Homo sapiens: one gene and its partners. The protein of the gene in region 4 purifies or fractionates together with the protein of the main gene of each other region. This does not show direct contact. Each region holds a gene or a part of one and is shown on either strand. Other genes may lie near its edges.

Region 1 (4,190 bases), on a different chromosome or scaffold from region 4:
TTGAACCTGGGAGGTGGAGGTTGTGGTGAGCTGACATCACGCCATTGCACTCCAGCCTGGGCAACAACAGCAAAACTCCGTCTCAAAAAAGAAAAAAAAATTGTTTATGAGAAATGAATGATGTATATGTAAATTAAAATAACAAACCATGCTTATGAAAATTTCAACTGTATTCACAAATAAAGACAGGTTCAAAATAAAAAAAAAAACCTAAACCTATAACTACCTCTGAAGCTGGTTAGTCTACTGAATTTAGAACCTGAAACTATTTTCTGGCCAATTCTTTTTTTTTTAAGATGGAAATACATTAGTATTTAACAGTAAATATCTTTAGGTAGTAGAATTATGGGTATTTTCTCATTTTTAATTTTTCCATATTTTCCACTTCTCCATGGCTCCTTTGTATTATGTATTGAGCAAAAAGAATAAAACAAAAACTTACCTGTTTCAAAATATGAAGATAATCGTAACAAAATCCAATAATATTAGAAGAAATATCATCATCCTCATGAATTAGTAGCTGCAACATCAGTGCCACTTTTGTTTCAATAGCTTGTAGTGCCTCTTGAGCATTCTTAATATCCCCATTCTTAATTAATTTACTCCAACTAACTATCAATGACTGTCCCATTCCATTTACCAACTTAGAAAATCTGGCCAGGAAGTCAACATCTTCTTCCTATAAGCAATCAAGACACATCTCTGTTTAAAACTGCCTGCCCAAGCTAAGAGGAAAAACTGAACTTTAATATGAATCAAGTGCTAATTACAGGATTCAATTTTAAAATGACGTCATATATTTAACAATTCCAGGCTGGGCACGGTGGCTTATGCCTGTAATCCCAGCACTCTGGAAGGCCGAAGTGGGTGGATTACCTGAGGTCAAGAGTTCGAGACAAGCCTGGCCAACATGGTGAAACCCCGTCTCTACCAAAAAGGTAAAAAATTTGCCGGGTGTAGTGGCATGCGCCTGTAATCTCAGCTACTCGGAAGGCTGAGACAGGAGAATCACTTGAACCCGGGAGACGGAGGTTGCAGTGAGCCGAGACTGTGCCACTGCACTCCAGCCTGGGCAACAGAGTGAGACTCCATCTCAAAAAACAAAACAAAACAAAAAATCTCAATTCCACTATGAACAAGTTGTGTCAGCATCTCCTAAGAGTTTGTGAGAAATGTGCAATTACAGGCTTTCAGGTTTAAGAACTGGTATAACCCATTCTCCAAGGAGAATGCTACTGAGAACATTTTGGCTAGATGCAGTGGTTTATATTATAATCTCAAGGGGAGTTTATAACATTTAGAAGAAAAAAAGCTATTATTATATTTAACTTAGTACCTATCCCAGTTTGTTCTAACAACTTTACATACAATGTTTTATATAAATTTACCAACCTGGTCAATGCTGAAAAACCCAGCAGACTGTAATACTTGACACAAAGATTCCACTAGTTTCATTTTATCAACAGGGTCCATTCCTTTATTTACAACTTCAAATAAACAGTCACATGCTTCTTCCCGTAGAACTTCTATTGACATATGACCTAGCAGCATATTTATAAACCTGGTAATGGGACAATAAAATTGTAACATTTTCAAAGTCATGAGTTTTAGATACTGTATTTTACAAGTTTATACTATAAAAATAATAGGCATACTTACCTATCATTGGCTATAAGGGATAAGTCTATCCAAGAGACATAAGCCCCAACTACTTCAAGGCACTGACACGTCACTTCAGAATTAGTAAACTGATAATTTTGTAATATTTGGTACCATGATTCCACCAGATTTGGAATGCACTGTTCCCTCATGGTATCTTTTATGAGAGTATTCCTACGAGCCTCCTAAAATACAAAACGCCAAATGCAAAGTAGATTACCTTACAAAATCATGTTTGATATCTGAATATACTTGCAGAGAGTAAACTTTCAGACTTGTTAACACATTCCCTACCAGTATTTCCTATTTACCAGCTCTAAGATCATATCCTGTGATTCTTTGTATTTCCTCTTTCTGTTCTACTCCTCAGTGTCAGAGTTAATTTCTTAGTAAATACAAACTATAAAAAGCACTGCTTAGAAATCTTAAGCATATTTTAAGTTATTTCTCAATATAGTAACATAGTACTTACACTATGTGATGAAGAATACAGAAGTAGCAACACGGACAACTCCTAAGCAATGCTTCTTCCTTGCTCAGGGACTATATAGCAGTATTAAATTGAGACTACCTTTCTCAACAGATTCATAAAAGAAAATCAACTCGTGTATGTCACTACAGTATTTGCCTAGTTAAAAAAAATTTAGGCTGGGCGCAGTGGCTCATGCCTGTAATCCCCACACTTTGGGAGGGCAAGGCGGGCGGATCACCTGAAGTCAGGAGTTTGAGCACAGCCTGGCGAAACCCAATCTCTACAAAAAATACAAAAATTAGCCAGGCGTGGTGGCATGTGCCTATAATCCCAGCTACTAGGGAGGCTGAGGTGGGAGAATCGCTTGAACCCAGGAGGCGGAGGTTGCAGTGAGCCAAGACTGTGCCACTGCACTCCAGCCTGGGGAACAGAGCAAGACTCCGTCTCAAAAAAGTAAAAAAATAAAAAATGTAATGTAATACTTTAATTTCAATATACCTCTGGAAAAAAAATAACCAAGTTTGAGTTCCTTCATAAAATAAAATCCAAAACATCAGGTAAATTTATAATTATATAACTTAAGAAAGTTTACCTCAAGAAAGAAAACTTCCCTGCTCTTTTTATTATGTGCCCATTATCACCTACAAAACTTACATTAAATATAAAAAATTCATGGTTAGTTACTTGCCTCTGATGTATGCACCACATCACGATCCACCAACTCTGAATCAATAGCCATGAGGATTCGCAGGTAGAGATCTACTCCCCTTGGATTTAGGTCCACTACTGAGAGAATGTCAAAAAAAAACTTGGGCCACTTAGTGAGATACTCTGTAACAAAAAGCAAGGCGAAGACTTGGGCGGCTTTATTTCGTATAAAGGTCTTCTCTGGTTGGGGATTCAGCATCTGACAAACAGAGAAACAGTCCATAAAATTAAATGTAAATTGAAAAGACCCAGAAACACCAGTTGTCTTATTAAAAGGCAAAGTTTCATCAAATGTCAACATGGCCCAGATAAACTATGCAACAAATACTCTTCAAAATTATTTTGATAATTATGATTATCAAAATTATCAAAAGTATTTAAGTGATTGACCAGATGAAGAACAATTAAATGAACCATTAAAGGCTGTAATGATTATTCCTCATTCTTACACTTTGACAGAAAAGTTTCATGTGCAGAGTTTTAATAGTTCCTATAATTTCTTCTAAGAAGAAAAAAAAATTTTCCTCTACTTGCTCTTTAAGGAAAATGAAAACTCTAGCTACACAACTGCTTTATGTGTTAAGATTAGCTAAAATTAACTGAAAAGAACTCAACTGGCCCTTTATAAAGGGCTCTGGTGGAGAGGCTGTCCAGGAGGGCTCACCTTTAAGAGCCAAACAGAAAGCAGCATTTGTCAAGTAGTTAAAAACAACTACATTTTAAAACCAAAGTTTCCACAATGTGTCATGGAAACTATGACCATTTCAGTCATTGATATAATATTAAATTATTGCTAAACTACCACTTCCATGATCTTTAAAACCAGCACCTTTTAAAAAAGCTATGAAATCAAATGGAGGAACACTGATGAAAATCTTTGAGGTAAAGTTCCAAACTCTTGCAAAAAATAAGTTTAAATATCTAATAATTTGAGGTACTGAATGAAATTATGATTTTACCTGAGCTTGCAGCCATGATATGAGCGTCTCCCTAATTAGCTGTTGTTGAACAGTGGTTAGTTCTGAGTATCTGTTCAAAATAGAGAAGAAAAAGAATAATGGCTATATTTGGTGTCTATGGTTGTAAAAAATAACAGCCTCATATATTTGAAAGGGAAAATTTGTATAGCTCTCAATTATCTGAAGTTCCCTAACATAAACTGATAATGCCACTCATCATTGCTTTAAAGATAAGGACAAGAGTGGCAGGTAGGGCATCAATATCAATCTTTAATTTGTGATTCTGTTCATGTTGAAACAAATGATGGCTACACAATTTTTCGAATGAAAATGTTTTGTGGTCTGTGATCTACAGAATAAACCAATAGGTGAACTAGGAATCCTCTCAGTAG
Region 2 (4,668 bases), on a different chromosome or scaffold from region 4:
AGTGTGTGTAATGATCAGGCGTAGGCTGGTCTGACACATGCTGCTCTGCCCTTCCTGGATGCCAGACTGTAATCAGATGTTTAAGTGTTAAAATAAACTCCAACTTCCTTTTCTTTATCTGGATGATGGATATGCTAGTGCTTTCACTTTGTGAAAAACTATCAAGGTGTGTGTTTATGTACTTTTCAGTATGTGCTACAGACCTCAACACAAAGTTTATTACAAGAAAAAACCCATTTAGTGCCAGCACCCAGTTTAAACCCCTGAAGGGCCTTCTTGTGCCCCCAGGATCAAACCCATTCCCCCTCTCCTGGCCACGTGCAGGCTTCCATGCAGCTCCCTCAAAAACACTAGCTCAAGCTCCTCCCCTCTGCCCACCCCTCGCCCCTACTTAGTCCTCAGGCTTCAACCTAAGCACCACCTCCTTGTAGCAGCTTAGTCCTGGTCCTGCACCTTAGGGCCCTCTCTTGCGCCTTCACAGGCACCAGGTGCCCCTCCCCGCCCTCCCCATCATCACACAGAGACTACATCCTCAATGCATATCCACCCCGGAGTAGGAGCTCAGAGAACTGGCAAAATGCAAAGTCCATGCCACCCTCCTAAGGAACTCTGCCGGCCCAGGGGTCTCATGACACCTTCTTGCCTTGAGGTTCCCCCTCCCACCCCACCTGTTATGCCTGCCTGCCAAGTTCTGCCTGGGGCAGCTCCCAGAGGTTGAGGACCTGGAGGAGACCTGGGTGCTTTGGATCCTCAGAATCCAAAGAACTGGATGCAACCCGAAGCCAGCCCCAGCAGCAGACAAGACTCAGGTAAAGCCCTCGTTCCTCTGTCTGGGTTTGCAGCTTCTGCTAGATGAAGGGGTTGGACTTTGTGCTCTATCAATCTGCCCTTCCTAAACACAAAGGCCAAATGACTGCGCAGTTTTAAAGAAGAGAGGAAACGTTTACTGTGTTGAGCAGACCTTATTTTCATTACAGTACCAGGAAGTTCATTCTCAATTCCCTTCGAACGCAGAGATTCTGCAGACATTTAAAAGCCCAATGCTGTTCCCAAGCAAGAGGCAGCACCTGACAACAATGCTGCATTTAATGGAGCAGGATTACAGTAACATTGGATATTCATAAAGAAGATTTTTAAAGTACACAGTTTCCTTAAAAATTATAACATTTTCCCACCTTTATTTTATTATTACCACGAATAACTGGTTGGTTGGAAAACATGGTACTTGATAATCTTTTGTTGTCAACCTTAAGTTAATGTATTTTGCTTTCTGCTGTTGTTGTTAAGAGACGTTATGCCCATTTCTCTGGAAATCTCAATGGTGACAAGTAAGGCAAGGCATACAATACATTCCTGTCCCACTGCAACCTTCCACAGCTAGCCTCTGCACTGCTGGGTATCTGGGAAAGACTCAGGAGAGGACCTTTTGCTTGCAAATCCTCAAACTCCTGACCTCGGGTGATCCGCCTGCCTTGGCCTCCCAAGGTGCTAGGATTACAGGCGTGAGCCACCACGCCCGGCGCTTGCAAATACCGACCACAGAGTTTAACCTTCATGGGCTCCTTCTAGGAAGCAGGCAGCCACTTGCCACAGACTTTGCAGTTTGTTTTTATAAATTGTCACTGATCAATGACAGCCTGAGGGAATGGGACCCTCTACTCAATTCATTGACTTCCTGCTTCTACTGCCTCCCAGAAGTGTCATTTCATTTCTGTATATAGAGAAATGAAAGACCAAAGAATGAAATGAGAAATCTGTATCCTCTAGGCATTTCAGGTATATACCCTGAAATATCAATAACCACTGAAGTTCATGATGTCTCATTTGCTTGAATTCAATCAGTTAATTACCAAAATACTGATTAAGATCTTTCCCTCACTACCTCAAGGCAGAGAAAACATGAATTTAAAGAAGTTATCTTACCAAACTACACACATGACAAGCTTTATTTGATTAACTCCAATCATCCCACAAAAATGTGCCCATAAAATCAAGTACTTAAAAAACTAATTATTAAAATTACACAACAATGGGACAGGCGCGGTGGTTCACGCCTATAATCCCAGCACTTTGGGGGGCCGATGCGGGTGGATCACTTGAGGTCAGGAGTTCGAGACCACCCTGGCCAACATGGCAAAACCCCGTCTCTACTAAAAATACAAAAATTAGCTAGGCATAGTGGCAGGCACCTGTAATCCCAGCTACTCAGGAGGTTGAGTCAGGAGAATCTCTTGAACCCGGGAGGCAGAGGCTGCAGTGAGCTGAGATTGTGCCACTGCACTCCACTCCAGCCTGAGCAACAGAGCGAGATTCTGTCTCAAAAAAAAAAAAAGCAAAAATTAGCCGGGTGTGGTGGCGCACACCTGTAATCCCAGCTACTCGGAAGGCTGAGGCAGGAGAATCACCTGAACCCAGGAGGCAGAGGTTGCAGTGAGCCAAGGTCACACCATTGTACTCCACCCTGGGCAACAAGAGCAAATCTCTGTCTTGAGGGGGGAAAAAAACCACGCAACAATGGAATACATATATTTAAATAACTGCACATAATACACCCTCCATTTTTGTTACCAAGAGAAAGCTTCCATCAGGTAGCTTTACCAATACATTTCCATTCCCATGAAATGCAATACCACAGTACTAATATTCTATTCAGAAAAAGACTACAATTCCCTTGTAACTCTTTTTCTTTTTCCCTTGTAACTCTGAGTTCTTTCTTTTAATCGTTCAGGCCACATAGGTAAGGCCATTTTAGAAAAGGACTGCTTTCAAGTATCTAAATATACTTCCGGAGGGCGGGGGAGGAAGGGAGTCATTTTACACTTGTCACTCTCAGGGTGATGTCTGACTGTCCAAGTCACGGGGTCAGTAGAGCAGGTTTCCTGGCTAAAGGAAACTCTGGGAGTTCTTTCCTCCCTACCACCTGGGCCAGTCTCTTCCCCCTGTCCCTAGCTCTTGGCCCTCTACTCAGGGACTTGGTCCCCACAATCAGATGAAAACTCATTCAGGCAGAGCCTTGACAAGGTTCAGAACACGAGGGCTTGACCGGACATAGTGGCTCACGCCTGTAATCCCAGCACTTTGGGAGGCCGAGGTGGGCAGATCACCACCTGAGGTCAGGAGTTTGAGATCAGCCTGGCCAACCAACATGGTAAAACCCCATCTCTACTAAAAATACAAAAATTAACCAGGCATGGTGGCAGGCGCCTGTAATCCCAGCTACTCAGGAGGCTGAGGCAGGAGAATTGTTTGAACTTGGGAGGCAGAGGTTGAAGTGAGCCAAGATCGCACCACTGCACTCCAGCCTGGGTGACAGAATGAGACTCTCTTAAAAAAAAACCCACGAGGGCTTAAGGACAGCAGAGCAAATTAAGCTCCATTTATGGAAACTGTTTTAATTTTTTTTTTTTTTTTTTTTTTTTTTTTGAGACGGAGTCTCGCTCTATTGCCAGGCTGGAGTGCAGTGGCATGATCTCGGCTCACTGCAACCTCCACCTCCCGGGTTCAAGTGATTCTCCTGCCTCAGCCTCCCGAGTAGCTGGGACTACAGGTGTGTGCCACCATGCCCAGCTAATTTTTGTATTTTTAGTAGAGACGGGGTTTCACCGTGTTGGCCAGGATGGTCTCTATCTCTTGACCTCATAATCCGCCCGCCTCGGCTTCCCAAAGTGCTGGGATTACAGGTGTAAGCCACTGTGCCTGACCGGAAACTGTTTCTTAACATACATCATGCACGTAATCTTCGCTCTCCCAAGAGGCATTCACCCAAGCAGACAGGCAAGCATCTATGTGTTCAATTCGAAATGCAACAATGACAGATGTACAACTTTACCACTCTTAAAGAAACTAACATGCCATCCATTATTCTCCATGTGGGAAACATTCAGTAAACTTCTAAAACCAAACACAGGACTCTGGCATATCCCCACACCCCCAGCAGCAGGCTGTGACAGGCTTTGATCTCAATCAAATGCCACTGTACACAGAACATAAAAACAGGCTCAGGATGCTGCATGTCACTCTGACATATCACATTATTTCATATTACTCTGTCACTTACTCACAAACAAAAGTCTCCACTATGGCATGATTGAGAGAGAAAATAATTCACTTTATATAAATAACAGCTAAGAACAACATACTGTGAACAGTTTCCAGAGTTTGAACATTCAGCACAATCAATTCTTACTTCTTGGGAAAAAAATATCTTACCTATCTTTTCTGTTACAGTATGCCTTCTTGGAGAAAATATTTTAGTGGTAACATCATTTTCTGGGGCATTTGGTTAATTTTGAAAGATGATTATGCCACATGAACCAAAAAAAAAAAAAAAAACTGGCAGGAGGAGGAGGGTCCTAGGCCATTCTGGAAGCAAGCTGGGTTTTGCATTATTCAGAGTCAACTATTAAGCTGACTTATATTAGAATGGCGACAGATAAGAGGCAATGAGTGACACCAGGACATGCACAGCACACAGAGAATATGGTCTACTCTTGTCTTCCCTGCACAGATTAAACATAAGAGGCTTGGTAGAAAGACATGGGGAAAGGTGCTATGGGGGCCAGCATTTGGAAAGCATATATCCCAGTGACTTGAGTATTTGCTATGCAACCTCCTGGACGAGAAACTGGGAAAAGGCACACTTCCGCCCACAGTTGTGGACAGCAGCAG
Region 3 (4,190 bases), on a different chromosome or scaffold from region 4:
GGTATTCAGCCAGGAACACAGCGAGAATGCGGCACAAGTTGTGTACCGTGGGTGGGTGGAGATTGACCTCGGTGTCCGCAGGGGTGTGCCAGACAGCAGGGAAGGGCGTGGAGATGAGATGGAGCACGGGTACCCCTGAAGTGACAGAGGAGACTTTGTCAGGTCCACTGCAGCCCACCACAACCCAGGAGCCCAAGCCCAACCTCTAGGTAACCTTGCCTTGCCACCACACACTGGTGAAAGATACTATGTTCTGGCACTTTTTTTTTTTTTTTGAGACAGAGTCTCACTCTGTCGCCCAGGCTGGAGTGCAGTGGCGTGATCTCGGCTCACTGCAGCCTCTGCCTCCCAGGTTCCAGCGATTCTACCGTCTTAGCCTCCCGGGTAGCTGGGATTATAGGCAGGCACCACGACACCTGTCTAATTTTTGTATTTTTAGTAGAGATGGGGTTTCATCATGTTGGCCAGGCTGGTCTCAAACTACTGACCTCAGGTGATCTGCCCGCCTCAGGCTCCCAACGTGCTAGGATTACAGGTGTGAGCCACCATGCCCAGCCTGGCACTTTTTTTTTTTTTGAGATATCATCACCCTCTGTTGTCCAGGCTAGAGTGCAGTGGCTCAATCAAGGCTTACTGCAGCCTTGACTTCCCAGGCCCAAGTGCTCCTCCCACTTCAGCCTCTCGAGTAGCTGGGACTATAGGTGTGAACCACCATGCCCGGCTAATTTTTTTGTATTTTTAGTAAAGACAAGATTTATGCCATGTTGCCCAGGCTGGTTTCAAACTCCTGGGCTCAAGGATCCCCCCCCGCCACCCCGCTCAGCCTCCCAAAGTGCTGGGATTACAGCTGTGAACCACCGTGCCCAGCTGCAAACATTTCTGGAATGCTTGCTATGTGCTGGGTGCTGGTCCAAGTAAGGTCTTTACCGGTGTTAGCATGTTCAATCCCCTCAACAATACTCTAAGATAGGGAGTATTATCCCCATTTTACAGATGAATAAATCAAAGCACAAAGAGGTTAAGGCCACTTAGCACCATTCCCCAGCCCTGGGAAGGGGACTTGGCCAGTTCCAATTTGTGGCTTCCTTGGACACCCACCCTCCATCCCTCCCTGCAGCTGGTACCTCTGCGGAGGAAGGGGATGTGGTCGTCTTCCACAGAGCCAAAGGGCTCCCCGGGTTGGAAGTACATCACTTCCTGGGGATGAGACTGCAGCAGGTTCAAACGGTGCAGACGCTTCTCTGGAAGTGGGGGCGATTAGAGAGGAAGGGTTAGTCCTTAGTAGTCGAAGGTCCCCAGTCCACAAATCAGAGGAAGGCAGAGCACCCAGAGACAAAGCCCTGGTCAGCCCAACAAGAGTGAATGCCAGTTACTCCTTCCTGTGGGCTCACTATGTTCCTGGTCTCATTCAATCCCTCAGAGTCTAAGACATAGACATTCTTTTTTTTGAGACAAGATCTTGTGGCCTGGTGTGGTGGCTCATGCCTGTAATCCCAGCACTTAGGGAGACCAAGGCAGGTGGATCACCTGAGGTCAGGAGTTCGAAACCAGCTTGGCCAACATGGTGAAACCCTGTCTCTACTAAAAATACAAAAATTAGCTGGGTGTGGTGGTGGGCGCCTGTAATCCCAGCTACTTGGGAGGCTGAGGCAGGAGAATTGCTTGAACCTGGGAGGTGGAGGTTGCAGTGAGCTGAGATTGCACCACTGCACTCCAGCCTGGGTGACAGAGTAAGATTCTGTCTCCAAAAAAAAAAAAAAAGATCTTGCTCTCTCACCCACACTGGAGTGCAGTGGGACAATCCCAGCTCAGTGCAGCCTTAATCTCGCTGGCCTAAGTGATCCTTCAGTCTCAGCCTCCCAAATAGCTAGGACTTCAGGCGCATGCCCCCATGCCTGGGTAATTGTGTGTGTGTGTGTGTGTGCGCGTGTGTGTAGAAATGGGATCTTCCTGTGTTGCCCGGGCTGGCCTCAAACTTCTGGGTTCATGTGATCTTCCTGCCTTGGTCACTCAAATTTCTGGGACTACAGGCATGAGCCACTATGTCTGGGCCCTCCGGCCTTTTTTTTTTTTTTTTTTTTGAGACAGAGTCTTGCTCTGTCGCCAGGCTGGAGTGCAGTAGCACAATCTCGGCTCACTGCAACCTCCGCCTCCCGGGTTCAAGCAATTCTCCTGCCTCAGCCTCCTGAGTAGCTGGGAGTACAGGCGCCCACCACCACACCCAGCTAATTTGTGTATTATTAGTAGAGATGGGGTTTCACCATATTGGCCAAGCTGGTCTCGAACTGCTGACCTTGTGATTCGCCCACCTCGGCCTCCCAAAGTGCTGGGATTACAGGCATGAGCCACCAGGCCCGGCCCCCACTGGCCGTTTTACAGATAGGAAACTGAGGCTCAAAGAAATGAAGCCACTTGTCCAAGTTCATCCAGCTGGTAAGATTGGAAACCACGGCTGTCTCACCTTAGAGCCCCTGTCTGGTAATCACTATTACTAATCTCTAGTTCCTTAGAAAGGCTAGGGAGGTAGAGGAAAGGCTGGGTGAGCCTTTATTTTATTTTCTTATTTATTTATTTGTTTATTTATTTATTTATTTAGTGACAGAGTCTCGCTCTGTCACCCAGGCTGGAGTGCAGTGGCACAATTTCAGCTCACTGCAACCTGTGCTCCCAGGTACAAGCGATTCTTCTGCCTGAGCCTCCGGAGTAGCTAGGACTACAGGCACACGCTACCACACCCAGCTAATTTTTGTATTTTTAGTAGAGATAGGGTTTTACCATATTCGCCAGGCTGGTCTCAAACTCCTGACCTTGTGATCCACCTACCTTAGTCTCCCAAAGTATTGGGATTACAGGCGTGAACCATTGCGCCCAGCCAAGCCTTTATTTTTAAAAACAATTTTTAATTTTTTTAATTTTAATTTTTATTATTACTTTTTTTTGAGACAGAGTCTCACTCTGTCCCCAGGCTGGAGTGCAGTGGTGTGATCACAGCTTACTGCAGCCTCGACCTCCCAGACTCAAGTGATCCTACCACTTCAGCCTCCCAAGTCACTGGGACTGCAGGCAGGTGCCACCATGCCTGGCTAATTTTTTTTTTTTTTTTTTTTGAGATGGAGTCTCGCTCTGTTGCCCAGGCTGGAGTGCAGTGGCGTGATCTCGGCTCACTGCAACCTCCGCCTCCCAGGTTCAAGCCATTCTCCTGCTTCAGCCTCCCGAATAGCTAGGATTACAGGCACATGTCACCACGCCCAGCTAACTTTTTGTATTTTTAGTAGAGATGGGGTTTCGCCCTGTTGGCCAGGCTGGTCTCAAACTCCTAACCTCAGGTGATCCACCCGCTTTGGCCTCCCAAAGTGCTGGGATTACAGGTGTGAGCCATCGCGCCTGGCCTAATGTTTGTTTTTATTTTGTAGAGACAGGGTTTCGCCATATTGCCCAAGCTGGTCTGAAACTCCTGAGCTCAAGTGATCCACCTGCCTCTCAAAGTGCTGGGATTACAGGTGTGAGCCACCAAGCCCAGCCTTTATTTTATTTTTATTTTTTATTTTTTTGAGACAGGATCTCATTCTGTTGCCCAGGCTGGAGTGCAGTGGCGCAATCTTGGCTCACTATAGCCTTGACCTCCCAGGCTCTAAGGATACTCCCCAGTAGCTGGGATGACAGGTGCATGCCACTGCACCCAGCTAATTTTTTTTTAAGAGATGGGGTCACCAGGCACGGTGGCTCACGCCTGTAATCCCAGCACTTTGGGAGGCTGAGGTGGACGGATCACGAGGTCAGGAGTTCAAGACCAGCTTGGCCAACATAGTGAAACTCTGTCTCTACTAAAATACAAAAATTAGCTGGGCATGGTGGCATGCGCCTGTAGTCCCAGCTACTCGGGAGGCTGAGGCAGGAGAATGGCTTGAACCTGGGAGGTGGAGGTTGCAGTGAGCCAAGATCATGCCACTGCACTCCAGTCTCAGTGACAGAGCGAGACTCCATCTCAAAAAAAAAAAAAAAAAAAAGATGGGGTCTCCCTATGTGGCCCAGACTGGTGGATGAGCCTTTAGAGTGTAGGTGCCTGTCCTACCCCAGCCCACCGCCCTGTACCCCATACCCCAGGTGGGCTGGGGCCCACCTCCGCATTCACCCTTACCAATGCTCCTCAGCCGATGGAACCAGCGGACCGTGCGAGGGAAGTGGCTGTA
Region 4 (4,190 bases):
CTAACATCACACTGCCTTTCTTTCAACTCAAGATTCCTCCTGGCTATTAAATTTGGATTATCTAATCTGTGTCCAATATAATCAATTTTATTTTCATTCTCTTTCTAAATATGAACTCTGGGCACAGAAGAACTGGCATTCTACATATTCACTCATGGTCGTGTTTTTGTGCTGCCTTCCTCTCCTTCCTCCCTCTCCTCTGAGGTCTGGTTCAAGTTCTCACTCTCTTTATGAAGACCTGAACGACGGCCCTGTGGTAACTGCACGTAAGTCTCATTCTCTGACTTCACCCAGCATATGTGGCTTGTACTTGAAATTATTGCCCGCCATCTTATAATGTCTTCTACACATTTCACACATGCTAATTTGCTTTCATCAAACTATAAATTAGAAAAACTTCGCCTCCTATTTCTCTACAGCATTCAGCACAGCTAAATGCTAGGAATAAGCTAGTGTTGATTGGTTTCATTAGATTTCTTAGTTGATATGAGAGAATTTTTTTGACCTTAGTGAATCAGATAGATGGAAGCCATAGGTAGATAATGTTCCTTGCTTCTCTCTTTCTCTCCCTCACTCTCCCTGTTTCTTTCCTCCTCTTCTACTAGCACCTGCATTCTCTTTCTGTGTAACTTAATTACTATCATTCAGGATTAATTGTTAAATAGCTGTTGTGGTCTACATTTTGCTAAATTTTGGTGCTGCTATCCAGTCTTTGTTTTGTTTTGTTTTTTATTTATTTTTGAGACGGAATTTCGCTCTTGTTGCCCAAGCTGGAGTGCAACGGTGCGATCTTGGCTCACTGCAACCTCCACCTCCCAGGTTTAAGTGATTCTCCTGCCTCAGCCTCCTGAGTAGCTGGGATTACAGGCGTGCACCACCATGCCCAGCTAATATTTGTATTTTTAGTAGAAATGGGGTTTCACCATGTTAGCCAGGCTGGTCTCGAACTCCTGACCTCAGGTGATCTGCCCGCCTCAGCCTTCCAAAGTGCTGGGATTACAGGCATGAGCCACCGCACCTGACCTCCAGTCTTTATCTCTGCAGAAAAGGCTGGTAAAGTGATTTTTTTTCTTTTTGGAATAAAATATTCACAAATGCTTAACACTGGTAATCACAATACTTCCCTCATGATTCTGTGAAGGAAAAGAGATGTAAATGAATCATCCTGTCTTTTCAAGAAACAGCAGAAAAATGGTTGGAGTAGATTTAACTCCAGTGACTTTCTACACAGCATTTGGGAAAAATCCCTAAGTCCCTAGATGCAGCAATTAAGTCAAATTTCTAGGGGTACTGGCAGGACAAAGAGGATAGTAACCTACCCCAGAGGTCACTGGGCAAAAGTCTGGGTCCAGCAGTCAGGCTAAGCTTCAGCCATAAAGAGATGCGATGGTCATGCCTATGATGGGACTGCAGGGAAATTAGGAAGGGATTCTTTGTCCCAAACTATTTCTTTCATATAGCCTTAAGTTTCACACCTGGAAGATTAGTTAGATTTATCTATTGCTACTTTAAAAATACCCATTCCTCTGAAAAGATTAAAGAAAGCTTGGTCGGTCCCAACCTGTGTAAACACGTTTGAGAGTTTCTCTCAAACAGCCCCATTCAGGCAGCTTAGTTTATAGTACTGGTTCTCAAACTTGCCTCCCCACTGGAATCATCGAGGGAGATTATTTTTCAAACACTGATGCCTGGGTCCACCCTCAGACATTCCGATTTCTTACGGAGAGTGCCCTGGGCATCAGGATTTTTTTTAAAAAACCACGTGATCCTAATATGCAGCTAAGTCTGAGAATCATGATTTTATAGGGAAGAAAATTGCTCTGGAATGAAATAGGCCTAGTTTTAATCCCAGAGTGATGCTTGCCAGCAGTGTTGCTTTGGACCAATTTGTTTGTTATTTAACCTCTCCAAGCACTTATTTCCCTCACTATAAAAGGAGAGCAAGAATATTGTCCATTCAGAGTTGTTATGAAAGGTAACACAATGATTCACATAAAATGTTAGGCAATGATTATGCACTCAAATCTTTTTTTCTCTACCTAGGAATGTGGATTTTCATGAGTGGAGGAGTGTTTGGTGGTATAAATATCTTTGGATAATCTGGAGAGTGGAGAAACCTGTTTGGGGCACCAAAAGCCTGGGAATTAAGGCAGAACACTGGGGGACTTGTCTATCTCCCTCTCCCTCTCTCTCTCTCTCTGTGTATGACGATGAGGGGGCAAATTGCCAAGAGTTGCAAGAGTGGCAAAACAAAGTGGATCATACAGATCCAAAGAGAAATTTGGTTCCTACTCTCTCTTAGCTAGGGTTTTCCATGTCCTAAATTGTCCTTTGTATCTTTATTTAAGAAAGAATTAAAACTGCACAGCTCAAGGAGTGTCCAGACTCCCAAATCCACAACTGTTGAGTAGCCTGCCTTCCTCATTCTAGGTCCATCTGAAATCTCCTGGTTTTCCCAGTATACTGACCTGATCTTCAGAAAGAGGAACTGTGTGCACCGGGATGGGCTGCCAGAGTAGGATAGGATTCCAGATGCTGACACCTTCTGGGGGAAACAGGGCTGCCAGGTTTGTCATAGCACTCATCAAAGTCCGGTCAACGTCTGTGCTTCGAATATAAACCTAGAGTAGGAAAATCAAAGCAGAAGCGAACGTAAAGGGAGCATGAGGTTTTTTTCTACAGAGCTGCCAAGGTATTAGAGAAAGGAAAGGACACCCACAGTGAAATATTACAGACATTGTGCTAACATCAGAATCATAATACTTGTTAAGGAATGAGCAATATTATGATCATGGTACAAAGCAACCTGGTTGGCCAATAGTTGAATTGACAAATGAGATCAATTAAGCAGTGGCTACTTGTCAAGCCAAAGTATTTATTCAGGTGTTCATAAAATCTTGAAATTACTCATATTCACAAACTTTTTGGAACAAAAATTTGCATAAAGAGGAATATATTTGTAAACAAGACCTCTGACTTGTATAAGTTCCTTGGAAAACAGGCAAAGCACTTTTATATATGCAGAATTATTTTAATTATTTCAAAGATCAAAGTTCCCACTCTTGGCTCCCCAACTTGCCTGTTCATGTTTATAGGACTCATTCAAGAATTTTCTATATCTCTTTCTTATATACTCTCCAAGTTCATAATGCTGCTCCATGCCCAGCTATGGGAAAAAAATAAAAGCAAAAATTAATGAAAGTAAGTTCTATGAATCACACTATCATAAAAATTTGTTGATTTTTTTTTTCATTATGTGTGTAGAATGAACAATGGTGTGGTTTAATAGTTCCACAATAATGACACATATTTAAGTGAAAACAAAAGAGCTGTACTCTTTAGTTACAGTTCCCTGACTCCCTGAGAAAACTCATTTATCTTCATTAGCACTTAACATAGAGACTTGCACATAGTAAGTGCTTAGTTGATAGTTGGGTGATTGATCTGATTTAAGTAAATGGTTCATCTCTGATGTAGTGGGATCCTTGTTGGTAGAGCATTCAAAGAGACCCACTTGGTGGGGATTTTGTGGAAGAAGCTCAACCATCTGATGAGATTAGACTCGATGAATCTGAAAGTCTCTTTCAACCTCTGTGGGCAATGCTTTACTATCTGCCCAGTTTATTAATTCCTGGTTCATAAAAAAATTAGAACATGTTACTCTAAGTGTGGTCTGTATTGGCTTCACTTAAAAGCATTATAGAAATCAAATTCTTGGGCCCCACCCTTGACCTACTGAACCAGAACCTTTGGGGGTGGTGCTCAAGAATATTTTTTAACAAGCTTCTGATGGACAGTAATCACTGAGATGCACTGCATTAGCTCAGTGGTCCACAACCATTACCGTGCATCAGAAACAAAATTATCCAGCGGTGCATGTTGAAATGCAGATTCCTCAGCATCTCCATCAGAGATTCCAGCTCATTAGTTCCTGAGTGGGGCCCTGACATCTGCATTTTAACAAGTCTCCCAAGTGATTCAGATGCATGTAGTAGAGCACCATGCTTTGGAAATGCAGCATTCAAGTTTGTCTTTAATCCAGAGCCTTACTAGAGCTTTGGGAGCCAGAGAGGAGGTTGTTACGGTGGCTGCTGCTTGGTCCCACTTGTCATTTGCTTGTCACACTTGTCATTTGCTTGACCACCACTATAATCACTTCCCATCTACGATAGGGACAAGGTGGGAAAGGA
Region 5 (4,190 bases), on a different chromosome or scaffold from region 4:
TTACTGTTTTTTGTTTTGTTTTTTTTTTGAGACGGAGTTTCGCTCTTGTTGCCCAGGCTGGAGTGCAAGGCGCGATCTCAGCTCACTGCAACCTCCGCCTCCCGGGTTTAAGCAATTCTCCTGCCTCAGCCTCCTGAGTAGCTGGGATTACAGGCACCCGCCACAATGCCCGGCTAATTTTGTATTTTCAGTAGAGACAGGGTTTCTCCATGTTGGTCAGGCTGGTCTCGAACTCCCGACCTCAGGTAATCTGCCCACCTCGGCCTCCCAAAGTGCTGGGATTACAGGCTTGAGCCACCACGCCCGGCTTACTTATTGTTAATTAGGAAAACCAGAGTGACTGTTTGGAGGTTCAGTGCCAATGAAGGTCTGGAAATACTGGAGTTGGGTGGGTGTGCAGGCTGTGGCAGGCACACAAAGGGGATAGGGGGAGCTGGTAAATCTGAGCTGTGCGAGGTCAGGAGTTCGAGACCAGCCTGGTGAAACCCTGTCTCTACTAAAAATACAAAAAAATTAGCCAGGTGTAGTGGCAGACACCTGTAATCCCAGCTACTTGGGAGGCTGAGGCAGAAGAATTGCTTGAACCCAGGAGGCGGAGGTTGCAGTGAGCCGAGATCGCGCCACTGCACTCCAGCTCTGGGTGACAGAGTTAGACTCTGTCTCAAAAACAAAACAAAACAAAACAAAAAACAAAAAAAAACAAAAACTGCAATATCTTTAAACAATGTTTTCCTTGTATTTACGTGGTCCTGAATTTTTTCCTTTGAAAAAGTAGTTTTTCAAAATAATAGCATTTCACATGTACTGAGTGCTTAGTATGTAGCAGGCATCATGCTGGACATAACCTCATCTAATCCCCATATCTAGCAGCCCTTCATGAGGCAGCTGGTATTATTAGTCTCACATTGTAGGTGAGGAAACAGGCTTAGGTTATATGGCTTTCCCAAGGTCATCCTGGTCACAGAGCTAGTAAGGACGACTTGGAATTGACCCATGGTGTAGCATGTCTGAAGTCCAAGGTCTTACCTCCCTCTGCTATGCGGCTCTCCACAATAAATCTGTTGCCCTGCTGCTACATGACACCTTGTATCAGGCTCCTGCAGACAGACCTGTTCTCTAAGATCTGAACAAACTCATCAGCCACTCACCTTAGCCAACAAGAGGCTGAGTGTCTCGAGCAGAGCCGCCTTCACATTCCAGCTGAACCTGTCCCCCAGGATGCGGATCAGAGGGCCAGTGATGCTGACCACGGAGGGCCTCAGGGCGTCAGCCGAGGTCAGGCGGATTACCAAGCCTAAGGCTTTGGCTGCCTCCTCCTTCTGCTCAGGGCTGCCAGTCAGGACTCCTTCCCGCAACACTGGAAGGATGGAGGTCACTCCCTGACAAGAGAACCACAACTGAGAGTCAAATCTCAAACACCCTGGGCCCTGGTGTCTCCCATGCAAGCAAAGTGGTCCTGACAGCTGTCCTCCCCTCAACTCCATGGGAGATATTGATTTGGGCTGAATCTCAGGATCACAGCCTGAGAGGGCTGGCTATGGAACGGTCTTGGCAGAGAAAAGACGACAAGGGCCCCAACAGGCCTATCACACAGAGAGAACATGCACTGCTGTTACCCTGTGGCCCACTCACTCTGGCCAAGGTGACCTGCAGAGCTTAAACCAAAGGCAGCATGAACCCTGTCCCCATCTGACTGCCATGGAAGAAAACATGCTGTCTGCGAAGGTGCTGAACACCAACCACCACGGCTACTGCTCCAGCAGCCCCTACCGCAGACCTGGGACAGGGGTAAGGGCCAGAAGGGCACAACAGACTGCACGCCCACAGCCCCCTGCACGAGGCCCTGGCTTACCTTCTTCGGGAGGCAGAATCCTGGCACATGCTCGCCTTTGCTCTCGTTCCCTATGAGCCGGATTTCCTTGTGCAGCTCTTCAATGAGTGCCAACTGGTTGCCAGCATCCAGCTTCTGCAGGAATCCAGGAAAAAGCGAGAGGATGTACAGCCCTCTCAAGACTGCTTCCAAAGAATATATGGGGAAAGCGTGGGCGGGAGTATAAACAAGACTTGCCACGAGTGGGTAAACGCCGAAGCTGAGTGACAGGTACGTGGGGGATTCTTATAAGTCTATTCCTGTAAATGTCTGGAATTTTCTAAAAGCAAAAGTTGGCTGTGGGGTCAGCAGTCCCCTCACCTTAGTGATGGCATTTAGGGCATCCCAGCTCTCCTCCAGAACCACAGGGCTGGAGTCATTGAAGAGGCGGATCAGGCCCGAGACCAGGCTCCGCAGGTGGCTGGTGTAGTCAGCCTTTGAGCGGGAACAGTAGATGTTGAGGATGATGGCAGCAGCTTGCCTCATGCCCACCTCAGGGCTGCGGGTGGCCTCCAGCAGATCCTCGATGATGATCCGGTGCCCTGTGTCATCCTCTACGGAGAGGATCACAGCCTGACAATTGGCCATCTCCTGCAAACCACAAGGGACATGTGTGCTGAGCAGGGATCCTCCGGGCAGACGGGACATGAGAAAGCAGGAGCAGGCTCGCCCCTTACCAGCTGCTCATCTGGGGTCCCAAGCTTTTCCTTCAGGGCCAGCATGACCGCTGGGAGGATCACGCCAAGATGACGGGTGAGGGCATCACCAGCCACTGACGAAAGGAAAGCCAGCACCCGGGTGTTGACAGGTGGCGTTGTCAGCTGGTGGAATGACAAACATTAACTCAGTGAATACTGTGCCAGGTGCTGCGCTAGGCTCTGGGAACAGACGGGTGGGCAAGAGAGCCCAAGCCCACTGCTCAGAGCCAAGCATCTACTCCAGCATATCTTGGAAGACAACAGGGGAAGGATGTAATGCTTGCACTGCACCCTCCTCCCCCAGCCCTCCAACATCTACGTTCAGAACTGGTCTTCACTGCAGGCCCTGGAAATGTCAATGCCCTGGAGCCAGAGGGTGTTGACCACATGTTGGGATTTACCTTGGGCACAAGGTAGGGCAGCACCACACGACTCTTAATAGCCATGACTTGCTTCAGACCATCCAAGGCAAACTCTGACACCTCCTCGTCATCCTGCAGAGGGTGTTGGGGACAACCCTGAGGAATCTGCATCTCTGCTGTCTCAACCAGCCACCGCCAACTTCCTTCTCCACTTGTTTCCCTCCCTCCTGTTGCACCCACATTTCCTCACTGCCGAAGGCGAAGCACAAAGCCAAGTCTGATCTTGCTATACCCACTCCCTCTGGAGGGCCCACATTGCGACTGCCTTGGCAGAATAATCGCCCTGTATTTTCCATCTACAAAGACGGCAAAAGCCAAACTGGTAGGTAGGTGTGTGGTAGATCCACTCACCAGCTGCTTTAGTAAAAATGGGAGAATGTCCTCCAGAGCCTGGTGGCCGATGGTGGAATGCAGCTGCTCGAAAGTCTTGGCTGCCGCCTCTCTGACCTCCTCCAGTGGGTCACACAAAGCCTTCCTTGCCGTGGGCACGAGGGATTCAGAGAAATACAGCACCTGCAATGGCAAGCTACAACTGTACCAGATGCAGGAAAGGCAAAGAAGGAGCAGAAGCAGACAAGAAGCACAGGCAGGGGACTCTGACCCAGCTAGGCCACCCTAACTCTCTTTGCCTGACTTGTCTTTTAACTTAACTCTTTACTGTGAAATAAAAAAAAGGAGAGAAGGGGCCGGGCACGGTGGCTCACACCTGTAATCCCAGCACTTTGGGAGGCCAAGGTGGGCGGATGACTTGAGGCCAGGAGTTCGAGACCAGCCTGGTCAACATGGCAAAACCCTATCTCTACTAAAAATACAAAAATTAGCTGGGTGTGGTGGTGCACACCTGTAATCCCAGCTACACAGGAGGCTGAGGCACAAGAATCGCTTGAACCCAGGAAGCAGAGGCTGTAGCCAAAAGAGATGGTGCCCCTGTACTCCTGCCTGGGCAGCAGAGTGAGATTGTCTTAAACTAAAAATTTTAAAAAAATTAAAAAGTAGAGAGGGGCCGCGCACAGTGGCTCACGCCTGTAATCCCAACACTTTGGGAGGTGGAGGCAAGAGAATCACTTGAGGCCAGGAGTTTGAGACCAGCCTGGGCAACATAGTGAGACCTCACCTCTACTAAAAATGCAAAAATTAGCTACGTGTGGTGGTGCACACCTATAGTCCCCAGCTACTCAGGAGGCCATAGCGAGAGGATCA
Region 6 (4,190 bases), on a different chromosome or scaffold from region 4:
ATGTCGGTGAAAAAGAGATAATTAATGACATCCCTGGAAACACTGTTGCCTCCATCAACTACTTTTCTTTTAAGCAGAATACATGGCTTCAAGTACTTATGAAGCTTTAAATAACTATAAAACAGACATTATTGGTAACCACTGTCGGAGGAAGCTTGTAGATGGGGAGGTGAGAGGTGTTGGTTGTTGTGAAATCCATTTTGCTCCCTCCAAAAACTTACAAAGTCCTTTAAAAAAATTATTAGGAACTTTTGTATGATCTGCAATTAACTAAACATTTCTTATACAGAGCATTCTCTCACCTTGAAACACTAAATTTTAACACTTGCCAAAACGTCTGACTTACTTAGATCTTCAAACCATTTGTGAAGTAATTATGTAGCATATACATTTCTTTTTTAAAAAGTCCTTGAGCAATTATTTGGCCAAAAAAGAACAGCAACAAAACACACCGCACCACCATGCTATGGTTTGGGTCTGTGTCCCCACCCAAATCTCATGTTGAATGGTAATCCCCAATGCTGGAGGTGGGGCCTGGTGGAAGGTGATTGGATCAGGGGGGTGGAGTTCTCCCTTTGGTGCTGTTCTCGAGATACACTTCTCACAAGACCTGGTTGTTTAAAAACGTGTGGCATCTCCCCCATCTCTCTCTTCCTCCTGCTCTGGCCATGTGAAGACACTTGCTCTGCCTTTGCCTGCTCTGGCTTTGCCTTCTGCCATGAATAAAAGTTTCCTGAGGCCTCCCCAGCCATGCTTCCTGTACAGCCATCAGAACAATGAGCCAATTAAACCTCTTTTGTTTATATATTACCCAGCCTCAGGTATTTCTTTAGAGCAATGCGAGAACAAACTAATACACACCATTAAGTCTAATTAATTCTGCTGCTTTCATCCCACTAAACCTCTGTAGATACCGGAATCACAAATACCTTCTTCAAGGGTCTCAGGAATTTTCATTCTAGCAAGATGAGACAGTAAAAGAACTCTGGCCTTCAGGCTATATGGGCAGGTAAGTGGAGGCTCATTCTTCTTTAAATTAATGCTGCCAATTTCTCTGATTAGCTAGAATAAATAAAATAATTATTCAAAAACACGCTTTTTTTAAAAAAAGTATTCACTTTAATACTTAACTGCTCATCGGGGGATTTGGGAAATTAGCCTAACCTGTGGTATTAGAATATTATCCGTTGGTCTGCTTGTGGCATCTTTATTATACTGAGGATCAAATTCAGAAGCTCCAGCCAAAACCATGATAAGACCTAACAAAACAAAAGAAATATGAAGGTAAATAAATATGCTCATTCATTAATTCCCCCTCCTGAGATACTTAATTCACTTGAAAGTGAAGCACTTTTCTAAACATGCACAATGCTAAAAATTATCTGAACTCCACTGACAAGTATTTATTTCTTCCATAAAAAAAGTAACATCTCGCTTTTTAAAATGTACACAGTATCAACCACCACAAGTGAACAGAAGTATAGATCAAATAAAGCACACCAAAGCAACTGGAGGCATTAAAATCACTGAAAGTTCCACAGAAACTTTCTATAGAACATCAGTATTCTGTGTGGTATTAATAATTCACGTGAAAAAAGGGGGCCCTATGATTAAATAAAGCTGAAAATAATGTAAACAAGAGTTAAAGGTTTCTTTACTACATGACTTCTCAAGGCCTTTTGTAAACCTAATATGCATTATAATTTTCCAAAAAAATTTTATTATGGAACCCAAGAGGATTTTGTGGAAATACACATGATTAAAACCCTCAGGCCAGTGGTGGCTCACGCCTGTAATCCCAGCACTTTGGGAGGCTAAGGCAGGCAAATCACAAGATCAGGAATTTGAGACCAGCCAGTTTGAGACCAAGCTGGCCAAAATGGTGAAACCCCATCTCTACTAAAAATACAAAAATTAGCCAGGCATAGTGGTGCACGCCTGTAATCCCAGCTACTCGGGAGGCTGAGGCAGGAGAATTGCTTGCACCCAGGAGGCAGACGTTGTGGTGAGCTGAGATTGTGCCATTGTACTCTAGCCTGGGAGATGAGAGAAACTTTGCCTCAGAGAAAAAAAAATCCATGTAATGTACTCACAAAAGGCAGGATAGTATAGAAGTTAAGTGCACAGACCTTGGTATTTTGTCACTTCCTAGCTAAATGACCTAGGACAATATTCTTCATATCTGTGTATCTCAGCTTCTTCATATGTGCCTGACACACAGCAAGCACAGTACTTGTGTGAGCTATTACTATTACTACCCTCAAATGTTTACTTAATAACAACTGTTCCTAAAACAGCTAAAATAACCTAGAATGTGTAAAGAAATCCACCAGCTAAACAATGCTTCTCTGACAAAGCTGTGTAAGGATACCACCCTCAGAAAAGAAACAGAAATCAAAATGATTGAGGCAAAAAGCACACTTAAAATTATAAACATGAAACATTTTCATAAGGGAGTAAGTTTCTGTATTAACATTTCAATCCAGCTTTAGGAAGAGTAATATTTTCGATAAGGCAAAGTAGTATTAACTCATTCAGAAATGTAAAATCTGTTCACACACAGTCATATATGACCATGAGAAGTCTCTCTCATTACTAAGAAAATTAGTAAAATTGCCAAATCCAAAATGCAGAAAAGTCCATTTTGGTCCCGGAGACACAATTCAAAACTTACATTCTTTTATTTTATTTTTTTTTAAAGAGGGATGGAGGAGCAGCTATGATTTTTGCAGAGCCATCATTCTGAAAGGTAACACTCTATCTCCCAAGGATAAACTGCAAAGTTTGCTTTATATAATCAAAGAAAGTGAAAATAGTATTTTTTTTCTTAAATTTTTAAATAAGAACTGGGAATGAAATACTCTAGCACTAGTTTTCTTTCAACACACCTAAGACTTTTTATTTTTACTACAATTAATACACTATAACATAATGGTTTAAGGCTCAAGAACCAGACTGCCTGGGTTCAATCCTGGATATCACTTACTGTGTATCCTTGAGAGTGTTACTTTTCGGTGCCTCAGTTTCCTCATCTATAAGATGTACTGTAAAACAGCACTCACTTACGAGAACACAGCAAAAATTAAATGAGTCAAGACACATACAGTAACTAGCAGTGTCTGGCATACAACAAATAATAAATGTTAGCTAGAATTACAAAATTTGCACGCATAAGGATTATGGTAAAATTTCTGATGAAATATATGAGTAAATGTGAATAATGAAAATATAAATTAAGAAATGTGACAAAGGGTGCTGGCATTTTTCTCTAGCTTTAATTATATAAATTAACTATTTATAAAACTGTACAATAGAATCTCAACAGTATAGAGTTAAGGAATATATATCAACCCCACATAAGTCACAAAACAATGTGATTAATAGCAAAGTTACTTAAAGTTTACTTACGTTTCATATCCATATTTCGGGTTTTATAAACAAAGTATGTATAAATCTGTGTTGTGCGTATTAGAATCTGGTCTCCACTATAGCGTATTGAGCGATACCACCAAGAGCCCTAAAACACAAAAAAAATTAAACAAGAAAGAAAGTATAAAAACTACGATAGGCTGGGCGAGATGGCTCATTCCTGTAATCCCAGCACTTTGGGAGGCTGAGGTGAGAGGACTGCTTGAGCCCAGGAGTTTGAGACCAGCCTGGGCAACATAGTGAGACCCTGTCTCTACAAAAGAAAAAGAAAAATGCAAACATTAGCTGGGCATGGTGGCACATGCCTCTAGTCCCAGCTGCTCAGGAAGCTGAGGTGGGAAGATTGCTAGAGTCCAGGAGGTCAGGGCTGCAGTAGCCATGATCATACTACTGCACTCCATCCTAGGTGACAGAGGGAGACTCTGTCTCAAAAAAAAAAAAAAAGCAAAACAAAACCCTGATAAATGTTAAGTTTGAGGCAGAATATGTTTATGGTCAAATCTTCTAAATATTCATAAAACAATAAAAATACCTGAGTCTTACAACAAGGACCTCTTTCTTGCATATTTCAAGTGATTTCTTTAGCAAATATTTATACTGTCTGAAGCCTAAACACCAACCTAAGTCACTGCATATATATAATCAAAACATTTACCATTTTGGATAGAAATACCTTAAAGACCAAAAAGGGATAAAACTACCCACTGCTATAAGCACCAAGCTGGTTCTTGACACACAGCATGTCTTCAATAAATACTTGA
Region 7 (4,190 bases), on a different chromosome or scaffold from region 4:
CAACTGCTTTTCTGCTAAACAGCAGAGTTAGGTACTTCCAACAGAGACTGCATGGTTCGCAAGGCCTAAGATTCTTTTTTTTTTTTTTTTTTTTTTTTGAGACGATGTCTTGCTCTGTCGCCGAGGCTGGAGTGCAGTGGCGCGATCTCGGGTCACTGCAAGCTCCACCTCCTGGGTTCACGCCACTCTCCTGCCTCAGCCTCCCAGCCTAAAATATTTACTATCTGGTCCTTTACTGAAAAAAATTTGCCAACTCTTGGCCGGGTGCAGTGGCTCACGCCTGTAATCCCAGCACTTTGGGAGGCCGAGGCAGGCGGATCACGAGGTCAGGAGATCGAGACCATCCTGGCTAACACGGTGAAACCCCATCTCTACTAAAAATACAAAAAATTAGCCGGGCGAGGTGGGGGACACCTGTAGTCCCAGCTACTCGGGAGGCTGAGGCAGGAGAATGGCGTGAACCCCAGGGGGCGGAGCCTGCAGTGAGCCGAGATGGCGCCACTGCACTCCAGCCTGGGCGACAGCAAGACTCCGTCTCAAAAAAAAAAAAAAAAAAAGAAAGAAAAAAATGTGCCAACTTTTGTCGTGATCAAAGAAAAGAATATGTCATTTCTTACTTTACTATTCATACCTAAGACTTAAATGTCCAATTGGCAGGAGAAAATATCTTATTTTCTCACAGTCATCACACTTATAGAAAGTAGCTTTGTCAATGCCACAAGAGGGGTATGATTGTCACATGAAGCAAAAATCATGCAAGTGTATCAGACACAAGTTGGGGGAAGGCAGGCCGAGGTACAGAACTTGGGCAAAAGGCAACCATAAAAACAACCAATAGGAAAATGTGCATACTCCTCCAGGCACAACTGCCATTGTAAAACCGGCATTTAGACCAGGCACGGTGGCTCATGCCTATAATCCCAGCACTTTGGGAGGCTAAGGCTGATGGATTATCTGAGGTCAGCAGTTTGAGACCAGCCTGACCAACATGGTGAAACCTCGTCTCTACTAAAAATATAAAATTAGCGGGGCGTGGTGGCACATGCCTGTAGTCCCAGCTACTCGGGAGGCTGAGGCAGAATTGCTTCAACCCAGGAGGCGGAGGTTGCAGTGAGCCGAGATCGCGCCACTGCACTCCAGATGGCAACAAGAGTGAAACTCCATCTCAAAAAAATAATAATAATAATAATAATAATGATAAAAATAAAACCAGCATTTAGGTGTTTATACATAAATCCACGTAAATGAAATACAACAACACAGCTATTCGTAACACAAAAAGTTTTCACCACATATTCACATTGCAGAGAGGTTCCTTCTGTAAAGTTAGAAACTCATTTGTAGTTCATCATCAAGCTACAGTTCTACCTTAAATTAACTGTGATTTGTCTAAATTATTAACAAGTCTGAGTCATATAAAATCATAAGGTAATTAACCCATTACTTCACAGTGTTCAGTCCACAGTCAGTTCTTAGTTTTTAAAAAAAGATTGAATGGCTTAACTTTAATATATCTATTTTCAGTCGTCAACTACGCTTAGTTGACAAAATGTACTTCTCTTGAGCCTTGACTTTGGATGTGGTCATGTGACTTGACCAGTGGGATGTTAGCAGATGTGACATGAACAGATTGGAAGTATTCTTGCATGGTGGGGCTTGTCCTGCTGTGCTCCAGCGTTTTGCCAAGAAAAAATAATTCCTCAGGTAGCCAGTGGTCCAAGCAGGATGAAAGAGATGTGCAGCAGGGCTACACCCAACCCACAGCTGGGAGCCAAGCCCAGCCAAGCCCAGCCTAGATGAACTGACACAAACACACATCAGCAAGAAATAATGGTTACTGTATCATGTCACTGAGTTTTGGGATGGTTTGTTATTGAGTTATGGGGTGGACTGACCTAGGTAGGTATTAGAATACTCATTTTATGAAAGCAGAAACCGGGGCTCTAAAAAGACATCTTACACAAATAATGTGATAGAACTTGGAGATATGGTTCTGGCTGATGTTTCATAAACACATAAATACTGAATGTAAATGAGTATCTGTCCAATTTAAGAAGTGATATATAAAAGCTGCAGTGATCATTTTTCATGCTATCAAAATAGGGTAAATTTCTAATTTTATCTGAGAAGTAGCCTAACTTCTTTTAGCTAGAATTAGTGTTATAATCTATTTATAATAGACTGCTGCTACCAAAAATGGCTTAAGATAGTGGCTTAGGATAGTATGAAATTTTTCTTTAGAAATTATTTTCTTATAGGAGGACTTCTTACTCTAGATAGGTCTATGAAATTGGATTTTTTAAAGCACATTTATTCTCACTCAGCTCTATCTGAAATTTAGCATTTCCTTCAGTTCAGAATGTAGACAACAAACCACAGTAGTAATAGTATTATGTAGGGTTATCTCCAATAGAAATTACAGATATTTTCTATTGTATTACAATTGCTGTAGACATCTAAAATATCTCAAAATCTATACTCATCCTATTTAGACGTTATGGTAGTTACTAGAATCACCACTAGGTCTTCTATTTAATGAATTAATTTAAAAGTCCCTATGTTATTATGTCACACATTTGTTTTAATATTTTGATAGGTTTCTTCTGTATTGTATTTTCAAAAAGCTACCTGGCTGATGAGGTTCCTCAGAGACAGCTGATGTCCGTGGATTGCAGCTTCATGCATAGGAGACCAATCAGACACAGCATCTGTATGGAAAGAGGGGAATGGGTTATATCCTGCTAATGCACTTAGACCCAGAGGCTTATCCTTGCCCATCAATAAGAGCCTAACAGGCCCTGGATGGAGGGAGACATTGGATTCACTCAACCAAAATTCCCATCAGGAATTCAGCATTTCTCTTCTTTATTAATATTTTTTGTGCACAGTTTGTTTGAAATGTCTGGATAGCTTGGGAAAGAACTACAGCCAGTCCTCAAACTAAGGACAAAAGAGGTGGATTGGGATGACAGATTACTCTATTTCTATTTACACACTGGTTTCAAAGGCAAATGGCCCATTTAGTTAAGCGAGAGCTTCACTAATTACCAACATTAGTGTGTTAAGCTGTAGCTGTCAGTCTAGTTTCCTGCATGAAATACAGACTTTGGCATCTCACCAAACAGTGTTCTGTATTAATAGTAGTAATCATGTAATTACATACACCATTAGGTTTGGAATCAAATCTAAACAGAACCATATCTATTTATAGATTATCTCCTGTCCTAATATTAAGCACAAATCAGTGTTCAGTCTCACCTTGAAACAGGGACATTATTTACCCTCAAAGGCAGCATGCCAAGGTGGTTAAAGAAAGCTCTTAATTCAGACCCGCTTCACCTTTTCTGACCTGTGGGTCCCGGGAAAGGCCCAGTGCCGCAGTTTCCTTCTCTGTAAAGTTACAAGTTGAGCAGCCCTAATATATAACATACAGGTTGAGCATCCTTAACCCAAAACTCCCAAATCCAAAATGCTCCAAAATCCAAAGCTTCTTGAGTGCTAACATGATGCCACAAGTGGAAAATTCCACATCTGACATGTGATGGGTTGCAGTCAAAACGTTGTTTCATGCACAAACTTATTTAAAATATTATATAAAATTATCTCAGGTTATGTGTGTAAGGTGTATATAAAACATAAATGCATTTCGTGTTTAGACTTGAGTACCATCCACAAGATAAGTCATTATGTATATGCAAATATTCCAACATCTGAAAAAACTGGAAACACTTCTGGTCCCAAGGATTTCAGAGACGGGATGCTCAACCTGTACTTACCATGGCTCAACACATACTAGCTACTATTATTATCCTGCCCTAACACTAAACAGAGAGTCTTAATTATACCTCATCATCATTGCTATTTAAAATAGCAAATTTACACCAGGCGTGGTGGCTCACACCTGCAATCCCAGCACTTTGAGAGGCCGAGGTGGGCAGATCACCTGAGGTCAGGAGTTCGAGACCAGCCTTGCAACATGGTGAAACACCATCTCTAGTAAAAATGTAAAAATTAGCTGGGTGTGGTGGCTCACGCCTATAATCCCAGCTAGTCGGGAGGCTGAGGCGGGAGAATCGGTTGAACCCGGGAGGCGGAGGTTGCAGTGAGCCGAGATCATGCCACTGCACTCCAGCCTGGGTGACACAGTGAGACTCTGTCTCAAAAAAATAAAATAAAATAGCAAATTTATT

Evidence for each region.
Region 1: the proteins of ACP3 (region 4) and XPOT purify together in Homo sapiens (affinity purification with mass spectrometry, with the first as the bait; one large-scale study listed by BioGRID). This does not show direct contact.
Region 2: the proteins of ACP3 (region 4) and UGGT1 purify together in Homo sapiens (affinity purification with mass spectrometry, with the first as the bait; one large-scale study listed by BioGRID). This does not show direct contact.
Region 3: the proteins of ACP3 (region 4) and QPCTL purify together in Homo sapiens (affinity purification with mass spectrometry, with the first as the bait; one large-scale study listed by BioGRID). This does not show direct contact.
Region 5: the proteins of ACP3 (region 4) and GCN1 purify together in Homo sapiens (affinity purification with mass spectrometry, with the first as the bait; one large-scale study listed by BioGRID). This does not show direct contact.
Region 6: the proteins of ACP3 (region 4) and SEC63 purify together in Homo sapiens (affinity purification with mass spectrometry, with the first as the bait; one large-scale study listed by BioGRID). This does not show direct contact.
Region 7: the proteins of ACP3 (region 4) and ASB9 purify together in Homo sapiens (co-immunoprecipitation; one large-scale study listed by IntAct). This does not show direct contact.

Annotation. Positions count from the first base shown.
Region 1 is NC_000012.12:64,417,724-64,421,913, reverse strand, and holds part of XPOT (exportin-T), read right to left. Parts: intron 3,869-4,190; coding exon 3,799-3,868; intron 3,039-3,798; coding exon 2,820-3,038; intron 1,845-2,819; coding exon 1,660-1,844; intron 1,562-1,659; coding exon 1,393-1,561; intron 680-1,392; coding exon 443-679; intron 1-442. UniProt on the Homo sapiens protein: Mediates the nuclear export of aminoacylated tRNAs. In the nucleus binds to tRNA and to the GTPase Ran in its active GTP-bound form. Docking of this trimeric complex to the nuclear pore complex (NPC) is mediated through binding to nucleoporins.
Region 2 is NC_000002.12:128,191,931-128,196,598, reverse strand, and holds the end of UGGT1 (UDP-glucose:glycoprotein glucosyltransferase 1 precursor), read right to left. Parts: 3' UTR 922-4,668; downstream 1-921. UniProt on the Homo sapiens protein: Recognizes glycoproteins with minor folding defects. Reglucosylates single N-glycans near the misfolded part of the protein, thus providing quality control for protein folding in the endoplasmic reticulum.
Region 3 is NC_000019.10:45,698,849-45,703,038, reverse strand, and holds part of QPCTL (glutaminyl-peptide cyclotransferase-like protein), read right to left. Parts: coding exon 4,139-4,190; intron 1,242-4,138; coding exon 1,125-1,241; intron 136-1,124; coding exon 1-135. UniProt on the Homo sapiens protein: Responsible for the biosynthesis of pyroglutamyl peptides.
Region 4 is NC_000003.12:132,330,623-132,334,812, reverse strand, and holds part of ACP3 (prostatic acid phosphatase isoform PAP precursor), read right to left. Parts: intron 3,167-4,190; coding exon 3,080-3,166; intron 2,622-3,079; coding exon 2,469-2,621; intron 1-2,468. UniProt on the Homo sapiens protein: A non-specific tyrosine phosphatase that dephosphorylates a diverse number of substrates under acidic conditions (pH 4-6) including alkyl, aryl, and acyl orthophosphate monoesters and phosphorylated proteins.
Region 5 is NC_000012.12:120,135,354-120,139,543, forward strand, and holds part of GCN1 (stalled ribosome sensor GCN1), read right to left. Parts: intron 3,504-4,190; coding exon 3,342-3,503; intron 3,063-3,341; coding exon 2,970-3,062; intron 2,692-2,969; coding exon 2,548-2,691; intron 2,462-2,547; coding exon 2,192-2,461; intron 1,967-2,191; coding exon 1,853-1,966; intron 1,380-1,852; coding exon 1,149-1,379; intron 1-1,148. UniProt on the Homo sapiens protein: Ribosome collision sensor that plays a key role in the RNF14-RNF25 translation quality control pathway, a pathway that takes place when a ribosome has stalled during translation, and which promotes ubiquitination and degradation of translation factors on stalled ribosomes.
Region 6 is NC_000006.12:107,905,519-107,909,708, forward strand, and holds part of SEC63 (translocation protein SEC63 homolog), read right to left. Parts: intron 3,518-4,190; coding exon 3,409-3,517; intron 1,260-3,408; coding exon 1,165-1,259; intron 1,063-1,164; coding exon 930-1,062; intron 1-929. UniProt on the Homo sapiens protein: Mediates cotranslational and post-translational transport of certain precursor polypeptides across endoplasmic reticulum (ER). Proposed to play an auxiliary role in recognition of precursors with short and apolar signal peptides.
Region 7 is NC_000023.11:15,256,238-15,260,427, forward strand, and holds part of ASB9 (ankyrin repeat and SOCS box protein 9), read right to left. Parts: intron 2,709-4,190; coding exon 2,629-2,708; intron 1-2,628. UniProt on the Homo sapiens protein: Substrate-recognition component of a cullin-5-RING E3 ubiquitin-protein ligase complex (ECS complex, also named CRL5 complex), which mediates the ubiquitination and subsequent proteasomal degradation of target proteins.